Linked DNA regions of Homo sapiens. The protein of the gene in region 1 interacts with the protein of each later gene in a biochemical or structural test. Each region holds a gene or a part of one and is shown in the gene's direction. Other genes may lie near its edges.

Region 1 (3,592 bases):
TCTAGGATTCCTGACTCAGGCTGACCTCTCTCTCTGGTCCCAGACTGCCTCCTTGCCCAGGCCTCTCTCACTCTTCATACTCCTCCAGATTTTGTTCTCAGCATTTTCCTTTCTCTGTGATCATTGGCATCCTGGGCGTTTCTTGCCCTCTGCTGACTACTGATTGGATTTTACCTATGGCTTTCTGCAACTTGCTACTCTCTCCCTCTCCATCCCATCTTTGCAGCCTCATAGGGTGGGATACAGCAGCTTTTTTTGCAGTTATCCACACTCACATTTCAGAGTCCTGACTCTCAAGGAACCACTGGTTTTTGGGATAGAACTTGGGCCAGGGCTAGGAACACAGGCTCCACGGTGACATGTCATTTGATTGTAAATTAAGTGTTCTGATTAGTAAGAACTAAGCAGGGGGCCACATGCTCTCAATGGAGACAATAAAGTGTTGTCTTTTTCTTATTGTTTATGTAGGTATATTTCCTATATGGGCATTTTTGGGTAGATTGGGAGGGGTGGTGGGGGTACTTCCTCCAACAGGATGCCTATCTCTCTGCCCCATCAGACCCCGTCTAACAAGAAGTGAACAGAACTGAGACCAAACAGAACATATTGAATAAATATTTAAATCCTGATACTAGAGGTGGCATGGAGGGCCACAAAATTGAAGTTATCCTGTTTCCTGGCATGGGAACAAACTTTCAAAGAGTCACCGGGTGCAGTGGCTCATGCCTGTAATCCCAGCACTTTAGGAGGCTGAGGCAGGAGGATTGCCTGAGCCCAGGAATTCAAGACAGCCTGGGCAACAAAACGAGACTCCGTCTCTACAAAAATAAAATAATTAGCCAAGTGTGGTGGAGCACTTGTAGTACCAGCTACGAGGGAGGTTTAGCAGGGAGGATTCCTTGAACCCAGGAGTTCGAGGCTGCAGTGAGCTGAGATCACACTACTGCACTCCAGCCTGGGTGACAGAGCCAGTGACACCCGGTCTATTAAAAAAAGAAAGAAAGAAAAAAAAGAAAACTTTTAAGGGGTCTAATTTCTTCACTTTTCCATTCTCCCTTTGTCAGGTAGGAGAAGGGAGTAGGGAGTGACTGGACCTGGAAAGGAGGGCTGCAGTAGCTATAATATTGACCCCTTTCCTTTAAAAATCCTACGCCGGCACAGATTTCCCAGACGCTCTCTAGGTGGCCTCAGACTCCACCCCTTTGGTCTTCCGCTTCTGGTTTCCGATTGTAGTGTTTAAATCTCGCGCGCTTTACAAGGATTGGCTACATCAGCGGATAGTTGGCAGTCTGCGTGCTACCCCTCCTCCTCGCCTTTTCTCCCCGGGCAAAAGGTTTTCAAATTCGACCAATCAGCGGGCGCGCTCCCTCAGCCGAGCCGCGACACCCAAGGGTTAACCGCAACCAACCGGAGGCGGGTATTGGAGAAAAGAGCCAATCAGGAGGGCGCAGAGGTGTGTCCTGGGGGCTTATAAAGGCGGCCTCGCGGCGCGCGCGCGACAGCAGTTACACTGCGGCGGGCGTCTGTTCTAGTGTTTGAGCCGTCGTGCTTCACCGGTCTACCTCGCTAGCATGTCGGGCCGCGGCAAGACTGGCGGCAAGGCCCGCGCCAAGGCCAAGTCGCGCTCGTCGCGCGCCGGCCTCCAGTTCCCAGTGGGCCGTGTACACCGGCTGCTGCGGAAGGGCCACTACGCCGAGCGCGTTGGCGCCGGCGCGCCAGTGTACCTGGCGGCAGTGCTGGAGTACCTCACCGCTGAGATCCTGGAGCTGGCGGGCAATGCGGCCCGCGACAACAAGAAGACGCGAATCATCCCCCGCCACCTGCAGCTGGCCATCCGCAACGACGAGGAGCTCAACAAGCTGCTGGGCGGCGTGACGATCGCCCAGGGAGGCGTCCTGCCCAACATCCAGGCCGTGCTGCTGCCCAAGAAGACCAGCGCCACCGTGGGGCCGAAGGCGCCCTCGGGCGGCAAGAAGGCCACCCAGGCCTCCCAGGAGTACTAAGAGGGCCCGCGCCGCGGCCGGCCGCCAGGCCTCCCCATGCCACCACAAAGGCCCTTTTAAGGGCCACCACCGCCCTCATGGAAAGAGCTGAGCCGCTTCAGACTGCGGGGCAAGCGGGCCGCGGCTCCCTTCCCCTCCCCTCCCCTCGCCCGCCTTCGCCGCCCGGCCTCGAGTCCCCGCCCGCCCCCGCTCCCGTCCCGCACCGCCTGCCGCGTCGGCCTCGGGCCCTGCCCTGTCCGCCGTCCGCCCTCCGGTAGGGTTCGGGCCTTCCGGATGCGGCTTGGGCGCTCTTCGGGGACCTCCGTGGCGCGGAAGACCCGAGCCTGCCGGGGGGAGGCCGGCGGCGCCGCACCTGCCCGCCTCGGCGTTCGTGACTCAGCCGCCCCATCCCGAGTCGCTAAGGGGCTGCGGGGAGGCCGCAGCACCTTCTGGAAGACTTGGCCTTCCGCTCTGACGCAGGGCCGAGGTGGGCAGTCCAGGCCGAGAGGCCGGCGGCCCTGAAGGTGAGTGAGGCCCTCGGCAGCTGCAGCCGGGGTGTCTGGTACCCCCCCGGCGTGGTGCTTAGCCCAGGACTTTCAGACGCGGCCGCTGGCCGGGAGGCTTTGGTGGGAGAGACGCGATCGCCGATTTCGGTCTGGCGCCCCTTCTGCGGCCGGGACCCAGGCCTTTCACATCAGCTCTCCCTCCATCTTCATTCATAGGTCTGCGCTGGGGCCGGGACGAAGCACTTGGTAACAGGCACATCTTCCTCCCGAGTGACTGCCTCCTAGGAGGACATTTAGGGGAGGGCAGAGGCCTGCAGTTTGGCTTCACGGCTGGCTATGTGGACAGCAAGAGTCGTTTTCGCGGAAGCCGACTGGCAGCCAGGCCTGTCGGGCCCCCCGACGCCGCCCCATTTCCCTTCCAGCAAACTCAACTCGGCAATCCAAGCACCTAGATACCAGCACAAGTCGGTTAATCCCTGTCTGGACTGAGCCTCCGTTGGCTTCTGAACTGGAATTCTGCAGCTAACCCTTCCACGACTAGAACCTTAGGCATTGGGGAGTTTTAGATGGACTAATTTTATTAAAGGATTGTTTTTTTTTTAAATGGAGCGTTTGTTTTCATTTTGCAAGAGAGTTGTAGAATTAGTGACTTTCTATACTTTCCTGATAATAGGGGTGGGAGGGGCCATGCAATATAAACAGGCTCTACTGTTAACTGAAGGGGCAAACCATAGGAATTTAAGATTGTGGCTCTGTTTCTTGGTGTTCCTGGGAGACAATTTATTCTGTGTGAAATGAAAACTATTGAGGCAGAAGCAGAAAGGACGTACCAGGAGAACTCTGGGCAAAAGTCCCAGCCTCTGAGGTAAGGATGAAAGGGCTTTGTGTTTGTTCCTATCTTCCCGCCAACTCCACACGCGCACACACAACACCTTCAGAACTGGTTTATTAGTAGGATTGGTTACATTCAAAGGCTGTTGCTTGGACTTCTCTAAAGAGATGAAGCCCCCACATACTGAGGAGGCAAGGCAGTCATCAAGGCCCCAAGGTGAGGCAAATCCCTGGAAGGCTTGAACCCTGCAGTTCAGTCTCCCGGGGTAATCA
Region 2 (3,500 bases), on another chromosome or scaffold:
GAGGCCTTGAGTGAGTAGTAGAGTACCTAATAGGCACTTTTTCCTAATGACAGGCCAGGACTCTGATCTTGGAGCTTATCTACCTCTCTAATTCTTAGATTTCCCACTACACCTCGGGAAGAATGTGGTAGGCCGAATGCCTGACTGCTCTGTGGCCCTGCCCTTTCCATCTATCTCCAAACAACATGCAGAGATTGAAATCTTAGCCTGGGACAAGGCACCTATCCTCCGAGACTGTGGGAGCCTTAATGGTACTCAAATCCTGAGACCTCCTAAGGTTTTGAGCCCTGGGGTGAGTCACCGTCTGAGGGACCAGGAATTGATTCTCTTTGCTGACTTGCTCTGCCAGTACCATCGCCTGGATGTCTCTCTGCCCTTTGTCTCCCGGGGCCCTCTGACAGTAGAAGAGACACCCAGAGTACAGGGAGAAACTCAACCCCAGAGGCTTCTGTTGGCTGAGGACTCGGAGGAGGAAGTAGGTAAGTTTGTATATTGGCAGGGAGAATGAGGAGACAGGAATAATGAGTGTACAATTGTCAACTCATTCCTTTCTGTTCTTGACAGATTTTCTTTCTGAAAGGCGTATGGTAAAAAAATCAAGGACCACATCTTCCTCTGTGATAGTTCCAGAGAGGTGAGTGCCAAAGAGTCAGACACCTGAGTCTTCAAAATGAGGAAGAACCAGGGGCTGGAGGATCAATCTCTAAAAGAGATGATTATCATGAGAGTTGGGGCTGGGGAACCATACATATTCATTCACTCAGCTGAATTTTTATGGAGCACATCTGATGTGCCAAGTGGAAAACAAATTGGAAACAGAAGAAGAAATATGCTACCTTGTGTCTCCCCTCAAGGAGCTCACAGTTGAGTTGGGGTATCCCTTCCAGGGAAATAAATTCTATAGACTCTCTTTTCTTCCCTTCACAGTGATGAAGAGGGGCATTCCCCGGTCCTGGGCGGCCTTGGGCCGCCTTTTGCCTTCAATTTGAACAGTGACACAGATGTGGAAGAAGGTCAGCAACCAGCCACAGAGGAGGCCTCCTCAGCTGCCAGAAGAGGTGCCACTGTAGAGGCAAAGCAGTCTGAAGCTGAAGTTGTAACTGAAATCCAGCTTGAAAAGGATCAGCCTTTAGTGAAGGAGAGGGACAATGATACAAAAGTCAAGAGGGGTGCAGGGAATGGGGTGGTTCCAGCTGGGGTGATTCTGGAGAGGAGCCAACCTCCTGGAGAGGACAGTGACACAGATGTGGATGATGACAGCAGGCCTCCTGGAAGGCCAGCTGAGGTCCATTTGGAAAGGGCTCAGCCTTTTGGCTTCATCGACAGCGACACTGATGCGGAAGAAGAGAGGATCCCAGCAACCCCAGTTGTCATTCCTATGAAGAAGAGGAAGATCTTCCATGGAGTAGGTACAAGGGGTCCTGGAGCACCAGGCCTGGCCCATCTGCAGGAGAGCCAGGCTGGTAGTGATACAGATGTGGAAGAAGGCAAGGCCCCACAGGCTGTCCCTCTGGAGAAAAGCCAAGCTTCCATGGTTATCAACAGCGATACAGATGACGAGGAAGAAGTCTCAGCAGCGCTGACTTTGGCACATCTGAAAGAGAGCCAGCCTGCTATATGGAACAGAGATGCAGAAGAGGACATGCCCCAACGTGTGGTCCTTCTGCAGCGAAGCCAAACCACCACTGAGAGAGACAGTGACACAGACGTGGAGGAGGAAGAGCTCCCAGTGGAAAATAGAGAAGCTGTCCTCAAGGATCACACAAAGATTAGAGCCCTTGTTAGAGCACATTCAGAAAAGGACCAACCTCCTTTTGGGGACAGTGATGACAGTGTGGAAGCAGATAAGAGCTCACCTGGGATCCACCTGGAGAGAAGCCAAGCCTCCACCACAGTGGACATCAACACACAAGTGGAGAAGGAAGTCCCGCCAGGGTCAGCCATTATACATATAAAGAAGCATCAGGTGTCTGTGGAGGGGACAAATCAAACAGATGTGAAAGCAGTTGGGGGACCAGCAAAGCTGCTTGTGGTATCTCTAGAGGAAGCCTGGCCTCTGCATGGGGACTGTGAAACAGATGCAGAGGAGGGCACCTCCCTAACAGCCTCAGTAGTTGCAGATGTAAGAAAGAGCCAGCTTCCAGCAGAAGGGGATGCTGGGGCAGAGTGGGCTGCAGCTGTTCTTAAGCAGGAGAGAGCTCATGAGGTGGGGGCCCAGGGTGGGCCACCTGTGGCACAAGTGGAGCAGGACCTCCCTATCTCAAGAGAGAACCTCACAGATCTGGTGGTGGACACAGACACTCTAGGGGAATCCACCCAGCCACAGAGAGAGGGAGCCCAGGTCCCCACAGGAAGGGAGAGAGAACAACATGTGGGTGGGACCAAGGACTCTGAAGACAACTATGGTGGTAAGTGCTGGCCTTCCTTCCTAGACCTCTGAAATCAACCAGGGTTCTAACAGCTGGGGTTGGGGAGAGAAAGGTAGAGATTATTTAAGGAGTTTAGTGTCAGGTATGATTTTTGTTTTAAACTGTCTTATATTCCTCCCCGACCAGATTCTGAAGATCTGGACCTACAAGCTACCCAGTGCTTTCTGGAGAATCAGGGCCTGGAAGGTGAGGACTTCTGTGTTATTTGAATCCTGTACCAGTGGGAGCTGGGAGATTAGACTGGTGGTCCTTGAAGGGTAAAGGCTAGTATGGGTAGGGTAGGAGACCAGGAATGGAACCCTACAGTAGTATGGAGGAGATGAACTTAGGCCATCTTTTCCTGTACAGCAGTCCAGAGCATGGAGGATGAACCTACCCAGGCCTTCATGTTGACTCCACCCCAAGAGCTTGGCCCTTCCCATTGCAGCTTCCAGACAACAGGTATAAGAAACTCTTCCCTCCTCTGTGTCCCCAATTCTGCATTCTCTTTTTTTTCCTCTGTCACTCAGGCTGGATTACAGTGGTGCAGTCTCGGCTCACTGTAACCTCCGCCTCCCAGGCGGTTTCTCTTCCTTCAGCTTCCCAGGTAGCTGGGATTACAGCTGTCCATGACCATGCCTGGCTAATTTTTTGTATGTTTAGTAGAGACAGGGTTTCACCATGTTGGCCAGGCTGGTCACAAACTCCCGACCTCAAGTGATCCGCCTGCCTCGGCCTCCCAAAATGCTGGAATTGCAGGCGTAAGCCACTGCGCCCGGCCTGCGTTCTTTCTTGATTTGCCTTCCTACATGTTTCTTTCATACTCTGATTACAGTGAGCCCTCTGTGTATGCGAGTTTGCGTCCGTGAATTCAACCAGCTGCAGGTTGAAAATATTTAGGGACTGGCCTGGGCAACAGAGAGAGACCTGGTCTCCACAAAAATGAAAAAATTAGCCCAGCATAGTAGTGAGCACCTGTAGTCCCAGTTACATGGGAGGCCAGGATGGGAAGATCAGTTGAGCCCAGTCTGGGCAATAGCCCATCCCTCAACCCCCACCCCCAATGTCTCTTAAAAAAAACACACACACACT
Region 3 (3,500 bases), about 62 Mb from region 1:
GGGCCTGCTGCTTGGCTACCAATATGTGCTTTTGCAGGCCTTTGCCCAGAATGTGTTGTCAAAGGCGGATGTAATCCAGGCCACGGGAGATGCCATCTGCATCTTCCGGGAGCTGCAGTGTCTGACTCCTCGTGGTCGTTATGACATTCGGATCTACCCCACCTTTCTGCACCTGCATGGCAAGACCTTTGACTACAAGATCCCCTACACCACAGTACTGCGTCTGTTTTTGTTACCCCACAAGGACCAGCGCCAGATGTTCTTTGTGGTAAGCAGAAACCCCTATGGCCGGATAATCCTGGTTTTTGCCTAAGTGTTAAGTAGATGGATCTCACTGGTGTGCAGAATTCTACGTTGGTTAATTGCAAGTTGTTGTAGAGTGTCAATTAGTACTCTTCCTTACTAGATCAGCCTGGATCCCCCAATCAAGCAAGGCCAAACTCGCTACCACTTCCTGATCCTCCTCTTCTCCAAGGACGAGGACATTTCGTTGACTCTGAACATGAACGAGTGAGTGTCTCCCTGGACTCGTTTCCTACCACTGTCCAGGCAGGAGACAGGTGTGCCATTAGAAGGCAGTAGTGTTGTGACCTCACCTTGCTTTCTTTGTAGGGAAGAAGTGGAGAAGCGCTTTGAGGGTCGGCTCACCAAGAACATGTCAGGATCCCTCTATGAGATGGTCAGCCGGGTCATGAAAGCACTGGTAAACCGCAAGATCACAGTGCCAGGCAACTTCCAAGGGTGAGAGTGTGGGCCTGGGATCCTGCCCTGCCTGGGTATGGGAAATGCCGTGTCTCCTTGGTAAACCCTTCCTGAGATGGGAATGCGGCCTCCTAGAGGCCTGGATGGGACCTTGTGTCACAATAGGTGCCAGCGCCTCTGTCAGAACAGCTCAGTGAGGTTTACTTAGTCGAGGACATGAGCACTCGTGTCGCTGCTGCTAGATACGCCCTTTGCCTCTGCTGAGGTTGGCACTAACCAGGCTCCCTGCACCCTCTGTCAGGCACTCAGGGGCCCAGTGCATTACCTGTTCCTACAAGGCAAGCTCAGGACTGCTCTACCCGCTGGAGCGGGGCTTCATCTACGTCCACAAGCCACCTGTGCACATCCGCTTCGATGAGATCTCCTTTGTCAACTTTGCTCGTGGTACCACTACTACTCGTTCCTTTGACTTTGAAATTGAGACCAAGCAGGGCACTCAGTATACCTTCAGCAGCATTGAGAGGTGAGAACCTCCACCTGTCACTTCCTGGGCATCCTGGTCCCGAGCCAGCTTTGTCTAGGAAGGCTGGCGTGGCCTGGGGCACTCTCCAACCCTAGAGCAGAATTTTTCTTTTGCTACATCAGGATTTGGTCCTTTTCCCTGGAGTGCTCAGACTTTAGAAACCTCTCCATTGCTTTCTTTCTGGTCATTAAAAAAACAAAACAAAACAAAACAAAAAAAACTTTTTCCGTATTCTGAAAGCTATATGTCTTCGCTACTGGTCTTTTTTCTCCTCCACTCCCCACCATGATGGAAATGCTATCTCTTTCTTTCCTGGAATGAGCTTTGTGCCTGAGAACATAGCGGCTAATGCTTATTGAGTGCTCACTGTGGACTAAACGTTTTATAAGCATCTTCACGTGTAATCCTCATATCAACCTTGTGAAGTATGAAAAAAGATGACCACGTCCCCTGCCCCACACTTACTCCCCTCTGAGCTTATTTTGTAAACAGATGCGCACCCCTCCCTGCCTTTCCTTTCCCAGAGTTCTTCAAAGCCATGCAGTTCTTTCAGGACTAATGTCTGGCTCTGGCTCTGCCTTACTGCTGTCCTCTGGGGGTTTCTAAGCTGTTGGGTTGGGTAGCATAGTCAAGAGCTCCAGGCTCCACAGTCTACCCCAGCTCATGGAATCAGAACATTGTTTAGTGTGCCCCTGTGTTGGCACTACCTCTCTGGTAACATGGTGCATGTCCCCTCACAGGGAGGAGTACGGGAAACTGTTTGATTTTGTCAACGCGAAAAAGCTCAACATCAAAAACCGAGGATTGAAAGAGGTACTTCTGTGTGGGGAGGATGAGACCCTCTCCTGGTCTTTCTATAGGGGAGAAAGGGGTGGAGATTTTTTCCGGCTTCTTTTTCACTCTTTCTTCTCTTCTTACCCTTATAGAAAAAAGAGGTGCGTGTGACCCTTTCCCCCTCCTGGTGCAGGTTTCCTCTGCATGACCTTAGACCAGTCTATGCAGCCCCTCAGGAGCCCCCAGTGGGGCTGGGAGAGGGAGGGGCTTGGGGCTTGGACTAACCCAGTTGGCAGGAAGTACTTGGGCATAGGCCCTGCACGTTGGCTGTGTGTGGACAATCCAGCCCCAGGTCTTCTGGGAGCTGCTGCTCTGACTTGACAGGCATGGGGGTGTGCTTTTGAGTGTGCAGGGATTCTGGCTCGAGGGTGAGTTGGCCCCACCGTGAACTCTTCCCTGGCTAGGGCATGAACCCAAGCTACGATGAATATGCTGACTCTGATGAGGACCAGCATGATGCCTACTTGGAGAGGATGAAGGAGGAAGGCAAGATCCGGGAGGAGAATGCCAATGACAGCAGCGATGACTCAGGAGAAGAAACCGGTGGGTTAGCCTCCGTGCTGAGCACGAGGATGGTCAGACGCTCCTCGCTGTGGCCCGGGCTGGACTCACCCTTGGGCCAGAGCTGGGTGCCTGGGTGAGGTGGGGGGATTTCCATTGGGGCAGAAGCTGATGCATCCTGTGCCCTTTTTCAGATGAGTCATTCAACCCAGGTGAAGAGGAGGAAGATGTGGCAGAGGAGTGAGTTTTGGTGGTACCTTGTGGGGATAAGATGGTGACCCATAAGCTTAAGGGACCAGAAGATTTCTGGACATTTCTCAGGTCCCAGCATTAGCTACTGACCCAGAATGGGAGAGTGACCTCCAATGAGGTGATATACGAAAATGTTTTGGAAATTGTCAAGGGCTTTGTAAGTGCAAGACATATTTTGAAGTCGGAAAAGTATAGTGGGATCTATGGCCATACCGCCCTGAATGTGCCAGTTGGGGCTGGTTCGTAGTTGGATGAGGAGAGAATGGGAATGAGCTGGTGCTTGCCACTTACTTGCTGGGGGTTGTCGAGTAAGTCATTGAATCTCAATTTCCTCATCAGTAGAAATGCAGTAGTACCCCTGCTAAATTGGTTAAGACTTTTTGTTAGCAGTGTCAGAAATGTGATTCACTCTCACTTTAAAAGGGAACATATAAAAGGGAATTTCATAAGTTCATATTACTGCGGAGTCTGGGGATTTAATTGGCTTCAGACACTACTGGATTCAGGCGCTCAAATCTATTTCTTCCGATTTCCTTAATTAAAAATAGGTTTACCCCATGGGGTGCCCAGTGACTCTCAGAAGCTCAGGGCAGGCTTAATCCTACTGGTTTAAAACAACACCAGAAGTGCCTCTTTTGGTGAACAGCATAGTGAACACAGTGGTTACCTGCCCCTTTCTAGCCTGAGT
Region 4 (3,500 bases), on another chromosome or scaffold:
CATGTTGTATATTATTTGAAGTTTATATACTTCATTTGTTCTAGGGTTGGGCAGAAATAAATGTTGGTAATTTTTTTTTTCTGTGATTTGCCTAAGCAGTTGGAAAGCCTGCCTGACTTGGGAGACCTGGATTTGCTGGTTTCTAACAGTGAAATTTCTAACCTTGCTTGTATATGTTGTTACAGGAGCTTTATTGCAGAAATGACCATTTATATCAAGCAGCTGGGCAGAAGTAAGTGTTACTGTTTCCCCAATATTCCAAGTCTCTGTATAGAGAAGGAATCTTCACATTTTAAGTCTTGAGTCACGTATACAGAAGCTGTATTATTTGAAAGAGCACATAATGTAAGATAGCATCTAGGGTATATTTTAGAATATTAGTAATTATATAAATTAGAGGCAAAGTCTCCCAGTTTGCATGTGAAAACAGACCATGTTAGTGTAATCTTTCAAAGGTAAGACACAGTGGGATGATTAGGAGTCTGCCAGTGTCAATTAATTTTAAACCTTTTTTGTTTTTTGAGACGGAGTCTTGCTCTGTCGCCCAGGCTGGAGTGCAGTGGTGTGATCTCGGCTCACTGCAAGCTCCGCCTCCCAGGTTCACGCCATTCTCCTGCCTCAGCCTCCCCAGTAGCTGGGACTACAGGTGCTGCCACCAAGCCCGGCTGATTATTTTTTGTTTTTAGTGGAGACGGGGTTTCACCATGTTAGCAGATGGTCTCTATCTCCTGACCTAGTGATCTGCCTGGCTCAGCCTCCCAAAGTGCTGGGATTACAGGCGTGAGCCACTGTGCCTGGTCTTAAACATTTTTTCATTTTTATATATACAATGAGTTATTTTGAGTGGATGGATAATACTAAGGGAGAGAGGATAAAGGCAGGCTAACTTCTGTCAGCTCACTTACCTTATCGAGGTTAATTTGGCTAGTTAGGCAGAAAGATACCTTTGTACCCCTTTGCTTTATATTCATCTCTCCTAAGGATGAATGATACAGGAGGAGAGGAAACTTTCTGTTAATATTTTCTATAAGGATATGAGTAACTTAGCTTTAGTTTAATGCTAAGGTCAGCAAACTATAGCCCTCTGGCCAGATCCAGCGTACTGCCTGTTTTTATAAGAACTGTTTTATTGTAACATAGCTACACTCACATTTTAGACTTTACAGGTCACACATTGTTATTCTCATTTTATTTTTACAACTCTTGAAAAACGTAAAGCCATTCCCAGTCCTATGGTTTATCAAACTCTGTTGTCAGTGACTGCTTTCACACATTAAAGGCAGAGTTGAGTAGTTGTGACAAGATACTATATGGCCTGCAAAGCCTAAAATATTTATTAATTGACCGTTTATAGAAAAAGTTTCCCAAATCCTGGTCTAGGTAACCACTCTGGACCCAATTACTTTTACTGGTTTATTTTTTACTCTTTGTCTTTTCAAACTATGTTTTCTTCCCCATTTTAATGTCTGATATTAACAGTGACAACTTTGTTGAAATAGGTTATTTGCTTTCATAATATTGATTTGTATGAGTCCTAGTATCAGCCAGTAATCAAAACTGTTGGTTATTTAGTTGATAAGCTGTTTGGCAATTTCTTTTGTTTAGCAGATATTAATAGAATAAAAAGGAACTAGAAGCCATGGCATACCCTGTATTTTAGGGCTTCTTGTGTACGTAAGCCCATAGTTTCTTGTGATAAGATGTTTCTTTACTCAGATGATTTCTTTCTGTCTGATAATCCTGACCTTACATTATAGGGATTTTTGCACGAGAACATGGATCAAATAAGAAATTGGCAGCACAGTCCTGTGCCCTGTCACTTGTCAGACAACTGTACCATCTTGGAGTGGTTGAAGCTTACTCCGGACTTACAAAGAAGAAGGAAGGAGAGACAGTGAGTCTTTAGATTTAATAGACTTGTGAGATAGTGTGAGATTCAATTTAGCTCTTGTTTAGTGTTTGGCTGAAGAAGTTTAATTTTAAGAATCTTACCTCAGGAAATGAAAATGGCCCTGCTAATCATCTCTGTGTCTGGCATGATGTTCATAATAGGCAGTGAGTAAATAATCATTGAAGTAATTCTCTCACAAAAGGGAACTGACTATTGGTTTAGGAATATTGTAGACCTAGTGTTGACTGTATAGTCTTAGCCCCATTATAGTAGATTTGAGTAGTGTTGTTAATGTGTGATCCTTTTTCCATAGGTGGAGCCTTACAAAGTAAACCTCTCTCAAGATTTAGAGCATCAGCTGCAAAACATCATTCAAGAGCTAAATCTTGAGATTTTGCCCCCGGTAAGCATAAAGCTGTTTAGTTCACATTTACGTAGAACTCTCCGTAGACAAGCAAATCATATTTTTTGTTTGTTTTTCTTATTTTTTAATAGCCTGAAGATCCTTCTGTGCCAGTTGCACTCAACATTGGCAAATTGGCTCAGTTCGAACCATCTCAGCGACAAAACCAAGTGGGTGTGGTTCCTTGGTCACCTCCACAATCCAACTGGAATCCTTGGACTAGTAGCAACATTGATGAGGGGCCTCTGGCTTTTGTGAGTGCAATATTGTTTTTGAGATCAGAGTCTTGTGTTTTACTCTTGAGACTATATTTGATTAGTATGTCTAGGTAAAAAATGGATTTATTTTGAAGCTGAATTATGTGCTTTTGTTTGACTATGTTGGCTTTTTGTTTTACAGGCTACTCCAGAGCAAATAAGCATGGACCTCAAGAATGAATTGATGTACCAGTTGGAACAGGATCATGATTTGCAAGCAGTAAGTCTGAATTATTTAGACAAGTAGTGCTCAGAGCTTCAGAATGTTCTAGGTATGGGTAAAAAGTCAATGAGCAGTACATTTTGCCCTTTTAAGGAGGGCATATCAAAAGATATGTACCAAACTGCTAATCCTAGTTACCCCTGAAGTTAGTTGCTATGAGTTGAGGGCCTGTGAGAGAATTTCACTTCTTAATGTAATTTAATAAAAGTGGAGAGATTTAAGGCAGTGACTCCTTTTGTTGTTGGTTTTTTTGTTTGTTTTAGTGTTTTCCAAATAAAAAATTAAAATGTTAAAAAGAATGCGTGTGCGACTTTCAGGGACAATGAGAATTTAGTTTTTGGACAACATCAAAAGATACATTCTTCAGAAGTGTAGTGAAAAGAAGTAGTTCTATTAGAGATATAAATATACACATTCTTTTTTGAAAAAAACATTTTCATCACTAAGCCAATGGAAATGAGTAAGTTTTTATAGAGATGGAAGTTTGGTTTTTTTGTTTGTTTTTTTCTTGAGACAAAGTCTCGCTTAGTTGCCCAGGCTGGAGTACAGTGGCTCAGTCTCGGCTCACTGCACCCTCCGCCTCCTTGGTTCAAGCAATTCTCCTGCCTCAGCGTCCCAAGTAGGTGGGATTACAGGCACACCCCACCACACCTGGCTAATTTTTGTATTTTTAGTAGAGATGGGGTTTCACCATGTTGGCTAGGCTGGTCTCGAACTCCTCACCTC
Region 5 (3,500 bases), on another chromosome or scaffold:
TTTTTTTTTTGAGGGAGTCTACCAGGCTGGAGTGCGGTGGTGCGATCTTGGCTCACTGCAACTTCCGCCTCCCAGGTTCAAGTGATTCCCTTGCCTTAGCCTCTCAAGTAGCTGGGACTACAGGTGTGCACCATCACACCCAGCTAATTTTTTTGTATTTTAGTAGAGGCGGAGTTTCACTGTGTTGGCCAGGATGGTCTCGATCTCCTGACCTCATGATCCACCCACCTTGACCTCCCAAAGTGCTGGGATTACAGGCGTGAGCCACTGCACCCAGCCTCGTATGCATTCTTTATCCTACCTTTTCTTGATGGAAGTACAAGGTTAAGGATTTATTTAGGCTTTAGGCTATCTAGTGGAGCTAAATAATTATGGATTTGTACATTGAGTGCCCACGATGTACTAGGTGGATCTTTGAGGCAACACAACGAACATGCAGGGTCTCTGTTGGCATAGTCCACTGTCTATTTGGATCCATTAGCATTTTAGGAAATAGTTGCAAAAAAATATATGTTGTAATAGATATAGAAGACACATGTTGAGCGTCATAGACTTGGAAGGGATCCAGTTACTTGTCTTTGGAGAAAGTGAGAAATGTATATGACTGTTTCATGAATTCAGTTTACAGATTTTTGCTTGAAGTTTTTTTGTGTGTTTTTGAATTTCTTATTACAGCGCAGCTTATGATGCCATTCTTGAAAGAAATGTTGCAATCAAGAAGCTAAGCCGACCATTTCAGAATCAGACTCATGCCAAGCGGGCCTACAGAGAGCTAGTTCTTATGAAATGTGTTAATCACAAAAATGTAAGTGAACATTTTTGGTTTCCTAAGTATAGATGAAATCAAGATTTATTCATGAATATGTGAATATCAAAGACTAAATATTAGGGGCTTTAAATTGTTCTGTATTAAAACATTGTTTAAAAGGGATATATATATATATATATATATCTACAGGGTGATTTTCCTCAACTTTATTAAATTGTATCAGAAGAATGGCTTCTAAAATTTAGATTATATGATTTCCTGTCATTTAATTTACAAAAGGAGTTTTAAAAAGATAAGCGTTTGAGAAGAATTTTATTCAGCTTGATCTCATCTTCTGCTTTTTGTTCTCCGTCAGGCTGACATTTAGAAAACTGTAGCATTAGCACAGAGATGAAATTGTTCCCATTATGCTTTGACACTCTGACTTTAATCATATTGAATATAAAATTTATATCACTTCTCCCTACCCCACTCCCACCTCTTTAAGTGATGGCAGTATTCACTGATCACTTTATGATGAGGATAGTGGGTTTAGCAGAAAGTGTTTGAAACTATCTAGAGGGTATTAACATGTTTCTAATTCTATTTTCTAATGATTGCAAAGATAAGTCTTTATAAAGATATATAAGTTGCACTCATTTTGAGAATAAACAGTTATACTTTTTTAAACTTACATTAAGCTTATTCATACTTTTGTGATTGTTCTAATGGAATGATTTCTTCAGTTGAGGAAATAAACTAGGAGTGAATTGTGTAAGGGACACTTTTAGGCAGTCCTAAACCGAAGGCATCTGACTAAAGACATTTCGTAGTGTTTGTCCAAAAGAGTTTATATAATATAATGAGCACAGTACCTTCTGACTACAGATAATACAATTTACCACATTTTGAGATCTAAATATGTGCAGGCCTCTGTGTATTGGAGTTACTGGGTTCATTATCAAGGGAAAAAAAAATCATGGAAGTTCAGGATTAGGCCCTTTATTTGGGGAGCTTACAATGGTGTTTTGAATACAAAACAGACATACAGAGAGTTAAATATCAAACATCACAAAGCAGTGGCCGTTTGTCAAATGATGATGGTGGCCCATATATTGAAATCTAAAAAGAGGGACGATTTCTGTGAGCTTTAATTAACTGGGAAGGCTTTGGGGAGGAGTAGACCTAGGCTGACTCTTAAAGATGGGGTAAAAATTGGATTGTTGAAGGAAAGGAGCCTTCAGAGAGGAAGAATGACGTAAAAAAGGTCCAGAGACAAAGATTAAACTTAGATAATAATAGGGAGGAAGTTGTGGTAGCCATTCTTGTTCCAAGCGGGAACTTGATGTGTTGCTCATCACAGTTTTGCTGGTGGCATCCTGTCCATGGATAGAGCTGCTCGTGCCCCTTGTGGCCTGTGAACGCAGTTCCATGGCAGTGGTGGTGTTGCCTTAGTTTTTCCTTGGGGAGGAGTTCAGTTAATCCTACCTCTCAAGCCTGGGTGACTGCAAAGAAAGGTGGTTCCTTCAACTGCATGGAGTATGACTAAGCATGTCTCACATGATTAGGCCTCTAGCAGGGGTGGCAGAGGTTTATCCAGGCAGAACTCTCAGCACCTAGAAGAGTGTGGACAAGAGTAGGTACTCAGAATATATTTGTTCAGTGAGTGAGTATAAAGCTAAATATGGGAAAACTGGAAATGGTAACTGAATTATTCCACTCACCCATGGATGGATGTTTTTGTAGTGTTTTGCCTTTTAAACAATTTCATCCTCTGTACAGATTGTCTCTTCACTGGTCTAAGCATCTCTGGTTTTTCTCATTCTTTTCATAGATGGTCTTGAGTTTCTTTTTTAATCTTGGCCGTTTATCTCTGAACACACTTTGAAAGTGACCTAGCACACACTACTGCATAAGCCACCTAGCACACAGTACTGCACGTCTGATCAAATCCTCTGAGAGGAGCTGAGGCATGTCATCTCTTAACTGTAGACATTAAAACCCTGTTTAGAAATTTCGTCCCCATCTGACTCCCGTTGTCTTTCTTTGTTACAGGCCTGCCTTACAGTTCCCATCTCACCCAGTCTTTATATTTTTTCTTTTGATTATGGAGAATTAAGTATAGTACTTCATGTTTCTCCCTATTAAATTTCAAAGGTGAAATGTGGTTGCTCTTCCTGGTCTACTAGTGATTGCTGTGATTGCTTTTTTCTTCCTTGTTCTGACTTTTCACTTGTGGGCTTCACTTCCCAGTTTTGCTCAGGATATCTTTGTAATAGCTGGATTAATTCATTAGCAACTTTTGAGCATATTGCAGAAATTACGTGTCTAACTATCACAGTTATCCAGCTGTTTCCAATTCATCATCTTATTCACATGGATGTTATTATTAGAAACATTTTGTAAAATGCCATTTTGAAATCTTCATATACTGTGTCTGGTTGCATTTTTCTGATTTATTGCTATTGTTCTTTGTTGTTTTTATTCATGGAAGGAAATAGTATTTCTCAATGAACTTTTACCTGCTCTTGGTAATTGTTACTTCTTTTGAAGTAGTTATATACCACTACTAATCATTGACTTTTGCTTGGCTGTCCAGTCTATAACTGATATAATTTCCTTTATTTCCCTTTTTGAAAAATGGGACAACTATCTGTTTGAATCTCTTTTATAACAGCTTTATTGAAATATAATTTCTGTGTCATGCAATTCACCCATTTGAAGTATACCATTCAGTGGTTTTTAGTATATT
Region 6 (3,500 bases), on another chromosome or scaffold:
CTTGCACCCTGTGTTGCCACTTCTGCCTTAGTTTAGTCATTTAGTTGCTACTACAGATGGGGATTTTTACCCTGCTGGTGTTGAGGCTGGAAGGTTGCAAACCTTTGTCCTAGATGGGGACGAGGAGTAGAATGGGAGACAAGCAGTAGCATGTGTTTACCTGGCCAAAGGCCTGCAAAATGTAGTTCACAGAGGTTATGGAGTGTCATTGATGCTATCGTGTGACAGTGTACATTTGATTTTGGAACCAGTATTTAATAAACCTTCATTGTATGCATTATTGTCACTATTGAGCTTTGTCTAAAAAGCACTACCTTATTCTCGTGTATAAGGATTTCTTAGTTTGGTTTTGCTCTAATTAATAGCACAGTTTTGGATTAGTCAGGAGATTGACTTTATAGTTAATTCTAGATAGGGAATGTTTTAGAATGCTTGTGCCGGTGGTGATCAAGTAACTTATTTTTCTGCCACTAATCTGTAAATGAGCAATAATGCCCACTATCTATTTCTTTTGGCTGGCTTTACTTAATAAAATAGGCTTAAGACATGCTTTAGGATGGGGTAGAATTCTAGTAATGGAATCAACCTTAAAGACCATCTAGGCTGGCGGGGCACAGTGGCTCACGCCTGGAATCCCAGCACTTTGGGAGGCTGAGGTGGGTGGATCACGAGGTCAGGAGATGGAGCCCATCCTGGCTAGCACGGTGAAACCCCGTCTCTACTAAAAATACAAAAAATTTAGCCAGGCATGGTGGTGGGCGCCTGTAGTCCCAGCTGCTCGGGAGGCTGAGGCAGGAGAATTGCTTGAACCCAGCAGGCAGAGGTTGCAGTGAGCCGAGATCGTGCCCCTGCACTCCAGCCTAAGCGACAGCAAGACTCCATCTTAAAAGAAAAAAAAAAAAAAGAAAGAAACAACCATCTAGACTAATTCATCTTACACAGATGAGGGAGGAAACTGAGACCCAGAGTGGTTGAATCTTGTTCATGATGTATTATTGTGACAATTTTTTAATAAGTAGATATATAGCAGCATTTCTCAGTTGTGTAGTAGATTAAAACTTCTTTTTCTATGCAGGAATGATTGGGAGTGTTTAATTCATTCACATATGTAGGTTAGTTGGTAAAGGTTGAGTTTAGTCTATTGTGCATATGAGACATAGGGCTTTAAGGATCTTTCCTTTTGGTCAGAGGCAAAGGTGATATTGCAGAAACAGATGGGAAAACTCACAAATTTTATATTTTCTTTTATTACACTTTTAGAATTATCCCTCATTCCCAACATTTTTCTTTTATTTAGGTCCTAAGCCTTAGAGCCAAACAGAAAATACTAGTTACTAGAATATTACCTGGAGGGTTAAACTTTTAAAATATAACCATACTGATTTTAATCAAAGAAGATTGAAATGTTTCGTGAAATATTAGTGGTATCTGTTCAGTGTAGTTAATGAAAGACAAGTAGTCATGCACCACATAATGACATTTTGGTCAGTGGTGGACTGCATGTGATGGTGGTCTTATGAAATTATAATGGAGCTGAAAAATTCCTATCACCTGGTGACCTTGTAATGTCATAGTGTAACACTTTATATTGTTTATGTTTAGTTATACAAATACTTAACATTATGTTAACAGTTGCCTACAGCATTCAGTACAGTAAATGCTGTACAAGTTTGTAGCCTAGGAGCAATAGGCTATCCAATAGCTTAGGTTTGTAGTAGTCTATACTATCTAGATTTGTGTAAGACCACTCTGTGATGTTCACACAACAACTAAATAATTTGATGTATCCCTGCGATTAAGCAACACATGATTAGTATGAAGAATGGTTTGATAGTTGAAGGAAATTAACTCAAAACTCATTTGCTTCCAGGGCTAGTAATATGTTCTACATCATGTATCACCCCACGCCTCAAACTCTAGCCCTGTACACTAACTTATCACAAACCTTGGATTTTTTTGCACAATTATCAAAATGACATATCAAACCAACCGTACATCTTGACATAAAAACAGTATGAGACAAAATGAAATTCTCTTGGGATATTGAAAAAATTTTTTTTGCCTGTGAATTTAGTAATTTTACTTATTAAGAATTTTCAAATGATTTCAGTTCTTAAACTGAAAAATAAAATTCAAAAATTAATTGCATTTTTTCCAGTGTTTCTTCTATGTCTTTATATTGGTAGAACTGTCCAACTATATGGTAAGGATGTGAAATGTTAAATTTACTTGAACTAGAGTTACAATGAACATTAGAATTAATAATCAGACTTCTTTTTTTTTTCTTTTTTTGAGAAGGGAGTTTCGCTCTTGTTGCCCAGGCTGGAGTGCAGTGGCACGGTCTTGGCTCACCGCCACCTCCACCTTCCAGATTCAAGCAATTCTCCTGCCCCAGCCTCCCGGGTAGCTGGGATTACAGGCATGCGCCACCACACCCAGCTAATTTTTGTATTATTAGAGATGAGGTTTCTCTGTGTTGGTCAGGCTGGTCCTCAAACTCCCGATCTCAGGTGATCTGCCTGCCTTGGCCTCCCAAAGTGCTGGGATTACAGGCGTGAGCCACTTCGCCCGGCCAATAATCAGACTTTTAGTAGTAAAATTACTTTCAAAAATGGAGATTCCTTTGTCAAATAGTACTATTATTAGTACTAAGATTGTAAAGAGGTTATTTGTGTCTGATTTTGAGTTTGATGCTACAGAGAAGACAGGTTAGGCCTGCATTGACGTTTTTCATCAAGGGCAGAATTGATGATACAGAAACTTGATTTCTGTCTAGGCATGGTGGCTCATACCTACAATCCTGGTGCTTTGGGAGGCGGAGGCTGGAAGCTCACTCGAGACTAGGAGTTTGAGACCAGCTTGGGCAATGTAGTGAGACCACCGTTTCTACAAAACAAAAAACAGGTTTCTTTAGTTAAGTATAAATCATTGATCTGTGATTAATCCAAACACTTTTTCCTCAGTATAGACCTTGGGGTTCTTCGGTGTTTGACTACCTTCTTTTGAAGGAAACCACTTTTTTTTTTTTTTTTTTTTGAGGCAGTCTCACTCTGTTGCCCAGGCTGGAATGCAGTGGCACAATCTCAGCCCACTGCAACCTCCGCCTCATGGGTTCAAGTGATTCTCCAGCTTCAGCCTCCTGAGTAGCTGGCATTACAGGCATGCACCACCATGCCCAGCTAATTTTTGTATTTTTAGTAGGGGAGGGGGTGTTTCGCCATGTTGCCCAGGCTGTTCTCAAACTCCTGACCTCAAGCGATCCACCCACCCTGGCCTCCCGAAGTGCTGGGATTACAGGCATGATCCACCGTGCCCACCCGAAACCACTTGTAATATACCTTTAGGAGAATGCTTTTAGTTACATCATGATCCCTTTCATGTAGCTAACAACAAAAATGAATATTAACCCCAAATATTGGAACTCGTATTTTGAAGCAAGTTATTTCTTGGTATACTTTAGTGCCAGAATTGGTACTGTTATGTGATTAACTGTTTTTGAG
Region 7 (3,252 bases), on another chromosome or scaffold:
ACTATTGATTGCCAACTTTTTAAGGATGGTAGGGATTTTTTCTTTGTTGAATATACTGTGAATTTTGGGATTCTGGAGTCCTTAGTCTTCATTTCCATTCTTCTGCCCATGATTACTGATCAAAATACTGGTAGAGTCATGGAGGAAGTAAGTTAAATGTGGAAAAAATGCTTTAAAAGTACTTACTATAACCACATCATAAGAATTCTGGAAAAATAGAGAACAAAAGGAAAAGATTGTTACCACCTTGATTTAATAACTTCTTGTTTCCCCATACATGTGTTTTGTTTATAGATTGCATGGGTATATGTCAATTTTTATATGTTCTGTGTTTAGTTTACATATTGTAATTCATTTTTAAGAGAGTACAGACATACACTTTTTGAGTAGGCAATATGTTCACATAGTTTGAAATTAAAGGTACAAAATGGCGTAGAATGAAATGCCTCTCACCCTTTCCCCACAGCGACTACTTCCCACTCAGAGGCAACAAGTATTACAGTTGCTTGTATATTCTTCCAGAGATCTCTGTCTATACAAGCAAAAACACATGTGGTCTTTTTCCTTGCTTTGCACAAATGGTAAACTGTACGCTATTCTGAACCTTGCTTTTTTCAGATATATGTTGGCAACAGTTCCATGTCAGTACATAGTTTCCTTTCTTTATTACAGCTGCCTGTTTTTTCATTGTGTATTTGCACCATCATTTACTTTTCTGGCTTACTTTTGATAGAAATCTAGGTTGGTTCAAACCTTTTTACTCTTAAAACAATGCTGCAGTTAACACCCTTGTACATATATCTTTAGAGAGAAGATATTTTAAAAAGAAATACCTTTTTAAAAATTATTTTATTATTTTTTAATAGAGACTATGTTGCCTAGGCTGGTCTTGAAATTCTGGGCTAAAGCAATCCTACCACCTTGGCCTCCCAAAGTGCTGAGATTACAGGCATGAGCCATTGCACCTGGCCAAGAAGAGACATCTTGACTTGAGCCTGAAGACTATGTACAGAGACTGACCTCACAGACTGACCATTCCATCCCACAGCTGCTGGACATAGAGTGATTTGCAGCCCCTCCTTTCAGAGTACCACATCCCTCTCAAGTGTTCCACAACATCTAGGAAAGTGAGCTCTTAAAGACAGACTAAAAAGAGTAATAAATCAATACAACAACATTAAAAGCCAGACTAGCGGAGTTTGAATCTTGGCCCTGCTGTTAGTAACTGTGTGAGCCTTGGGCAAGTTACTCAGCCTCCTTGTGTCTTGGTTTTGGTTTCTTCATCTCTAAGTAATTATATCTGTCATTATTGCCCTGATCACAAACAAAAGCCTGAATGTACTATGTTTAAAAGACAAACCAAAAATTAACCCAAACTTGCATTATTTGTCTGAGCTACAGAATGTTCTTTCCTTGGAGAGATATCTGATATTAAACATCATCTGCATTTTACTTGCCTAGAAAATACACGGTAACTTTTCTGCCTTGCAGCATCAAACTATAGTACAGCTGAGCCCCAGTGCTGTGCAGTCTGACTCTAATTAAAGGCACCTTCTTTACAGCAGGGCTCTGGGGAACTGGAAAAGGGGGTTTGTTTCATTATCTGGTTTTATTAAGCAGATGAATGCAGCCAGCTATATGAAGCACTTTGCAGTGAATGGCAGGTGTCCCATATCTGGTTATGTTAACCTAGAAAGGGCTCACTCTACCTCTAGGCATGTTTCATCCCAACAATCAGACTGTGCCAAAGCAGGGGACTTTGTCCTTTGTGGATTGCATAGCTGGATACCCATCATCTGTTTCTCTGATTGGAAGCTGCTGTTGTACAGAAAGACCTGCATTTCCCCCTTGTCTCCAGTTCTCTCACTACTTTTTCCTCCTCTGTGAGTGACCATCCAGGCAGTCACCATAACTGCTGGAGTGTCTGGGATTGGTAGCTCTCTCCAACTGCCTGCTTGCTCTTTACAGCCTCTCTCTGTGACTGGAATCTCTCCACCTCATCGTATCTAAGGATAACCCAGAAACATGGGGTGTCCTAGGTATGTTTATCTCGACACTGAACCCCCTAGGCTTCTGATGAATCCAGTGATTAGCTAAATTTGACATAGAAAGTAAGAAGGAATGTCTACTTTGTATTGTGGTCCTAATCTAAGATCAGGAGAATCCTGGAATTGTTATCTGTCTCTTGCTCTGAGATACAGACTTGTTCATAGGTGTGGGGCCTGATTGGAACAGGATCTGCCATTGGTCACAATAGGTCAAGGGCTTGTTCTGAACCCTAGTTAGCTTCATTCAGAGAAAGAAACTTCCTACCTGGTCAGCTTTTTCAGCTTCTCCAACAAATGGGAGTTGAGGCAGTAGGAGTGTGGGGTTCTTGGGAAGACGATGGGGCCTTGTATTAAGGAGAAATAATGAACTATCTTCTTGATTCTTCCATTGAGAAAAGCATATGAATCCTAGGAAAGGGCTCAGCCTGTGATAGGCATTCAATAAATACTCCAATGCTGTCATTCCTTTGTCTACAGCATCCCCAAACAATGTACCAGTGATGGGCTACCTGAGCTCATCTAGTCGCCAAGCAGTATCTCCTGCTTGCTGCTGCTTTACTACATTCCAGATGCCCACCTCATCCAATTTCCAGAGCCACTATCTCTGCTGTCCACTTTCCTTCAGGCTCTGTGAATACTTCAACCTGCTGTGATTTGGGGCCGTTTGTACTCTGCATGTATTCAATAAATTCAATTCAGCAATAGTTATCAAATGCCCATTTTCTTACTAGGCACTGCTCTAGGTGTTTGGTATGGCAATGAGCAAAACACAACCATTGTGAGCTGATGTTCTAGAAAGGTGTCAAAAGCGTTTCAAAGGTTTTATGAGATGCTGTGGGAGGGGGTTACGCACTGCTACCTACTGAGGTAGCAATGTTGGGTGTTTCCTCACATTCCTCAACCTCCACGCAGGAGATCCAGCAGGCTACGCTGGCCCATCCCAAGATCCAGAACTGGCGTTTCACATCTCTAGGACCTGGGTAGCCCAAGCCTTTGCAGCCTGCTGCTTTTACCACCACCCACCGGCCCTCAGGATGTAGGGACCAGTTCCTTAGAGATCAAGCTGTCCTGGGCCTCTACCCAGCTCTACCCAGGGGCCTTCAAGGGCATCTCTGTGGCAGGTTTCAGGGCAAGTTTGGCCTTTTAGCATGGAGAATAGGCCCTGAAGCACCACATACCACTGTCCTGTGTAGGCAGGCACCCA

The links.
Region 2: the proteins of H2AX (region 1) and MDC1 form a complex in vitro, tested with the Homo sapiens proteins (5 studies listed by BioGRID and IntAct, with this or other methods).
Region 3: the proteins of H2AX (region 1) and SSRP1 form a complex in vitro, tested with the Homo sapiens proteins (one study listed by BioGRID).
Region 4: the proteins of H2AX (region 1) and DHX9 form a complex in vitro, tested with the Homo sapiens proteins (one study listed by BioGRID).
Region 5: the proteins of H2AX (region 1) and MAPK8 form a complex in vitro, tested with the Homo sapiens proteins (2 studies listed by BioGRID, with this or other methods).
Region 6: of the proteins of H2AX (region 1) and PPP2CA, one has a biochemical effect on the other in vitro, tested with the Homo sapiens proteins (one study listed by IntAct).
Region 7: of the proteins of H2AX (region 1) and RNF8, one has a biochemical effect on the other in vitro, tested with the Homo sapiens proteins (2 studies listed by BioGRID).

The regions. Positions count from the first base shown.
Region 1 is NC_000011.10:119,093,374-119,096,965, reverse strand, and holds H2AX (histone H2AX), read left to right. Parts: upstream 1-1,500; 5' UTR 1,501-1,571; coding exon 1,572-2,003; 3' UTR 2,004-3,092; downstream 3,093-3,592. UniProt on the Homo sapiens protein: Variant histone H2A which replaces conventional H2A in a subset of nucleosomes. Nucleosomes wrap and compact DNA into chromatin, limiting DNA accessibility to the cellular machineries which require DNA as a template.
Region 2 is NC_000006.12:30,710,782-30,714,281, reverse strand, and holds part of MDC1 (mediator of DNA damage checkpoint protein 1), read left to right. Parts: intron 1-98; coding exon 99-479; intron 480-564; coding exon 565-634; intron 635-927; coding exon 928-2,408; intron 2,409-2,555; coding exon 2,556-2,615; intron 2,616-2,777; coding exon 2,778-2,870; intron 2,871-3,500. UniProt on the Homo sapiens protein: Histone reader protein required for checkpoint-mediated cell cycle arrest in response to DNA damage within both the S phase and G2/M phases of the cell cycle.
Region 3 is NC_000011.10:57,329,393-57,332,892, reverse strand, and holds part of SSRP1 (FACT complex subunit SSRP1), read left to right. Parts: intron 1-37; coding exon 38-268; intron 269-406; coding exon 407-510; intron 511-612; coding exon 613-741; intron 742-1,003; coding exon 1,004-1,225; intron 1,226-1,965; coding exon 1,966-2,038; intron 2,039-2,151; coding exon of another isoform or gene 2,152-2,283; exon of another isoform or gene 2,284-2,463; coding exon 2,464-2,602; intron 2,603-2,754; coding exon 2,755-2,800; intron 2,801-3,500. UniProt on the Homo sapiens protein: Component of the FACT complex, a general chromatin factor that acts to reorganize nucleosomes. The FACT complex is involved in multiple processes that require DNA as a template such as mRNA elongation, DNA replication and DNA repair.
Region 4 is NC_000001.11:182,856,347-182,859,846, forward strand, and holds part of DHX9 (ATP-dependent RNA helicase A), read left to right. Parts: intron 1-185; coding exon 186-232; intron 233-1,757; coding exon 1,758-1,894; intron 1,895-2,204; coding exon 2,205-2,294; intron 2,295-2,386; coding exon 2,387-2,548; intron 2,549-2,693; coding exon 2,694-2,771; intron 2,772-3,500. UniProt on the Homo sapiens protein: Multifunctional ATP-dependent nucleic acid helicase that unwinds DNA and RNA in a 3' to 5' direction and that plays important roles in many processes, such as DNA replication, transcriptional activation, post-transcriptional RNA regulation, mRNA translation and RNA-mediated gene silencing.
Region 5 is NC_000010.11:48,404,177-48,407,676, forward strand, and holds part of MAPK8 (mitogen-activated protein kinase 8), read left to right. Parts: intron 1-675; coding exon 676-805; intron 806-3,500. UniProt on the Homo sapiens protein: Serine/threonine-protein kinase involved in various processes such as cell proliferation, differentiation, migration, transformation and programmed cell death.
Region 6 is NC_000005.10:134,216,074-134,219,573, reverse strand, and holds part of PPP2CA (serine/threonine-protein phosphatase 2A catalytic subunit alpha isoform), read left to right. Parts: intron 1-3,500. UniProt on the Homo sapiens protein: Catalytic subunit of protein phosphatase 2A (PP2A), a serine/threonine phosphatase involved in the regulation of a wide variety of enzymes, signal transduction pathways, and cellular events.
Region 7 is NC_000006.12:37,391,983-37,395,234, forward strand, and holds the end of RNF8 (E3 ubiquitin-protein ligase RNF8), read left to right. Parts: 3' UTR 1-2,752; downstream 2,753-3,252. UniProt on the Homo sapiens protein: E3 ubiquitin-protein ligase that plays a key role in DNA damage signaling via 2 distinct roles: by mediating the 'Lys-63'-linked ubiquitination of histones H2A and H2AX and promoting the recruitment of DNA repair proteins at double-strand breaks (DSBs) sites, and by catalyzing 'Lys-48'-linked ubiquitination to remove target proteins from DNA damage sites.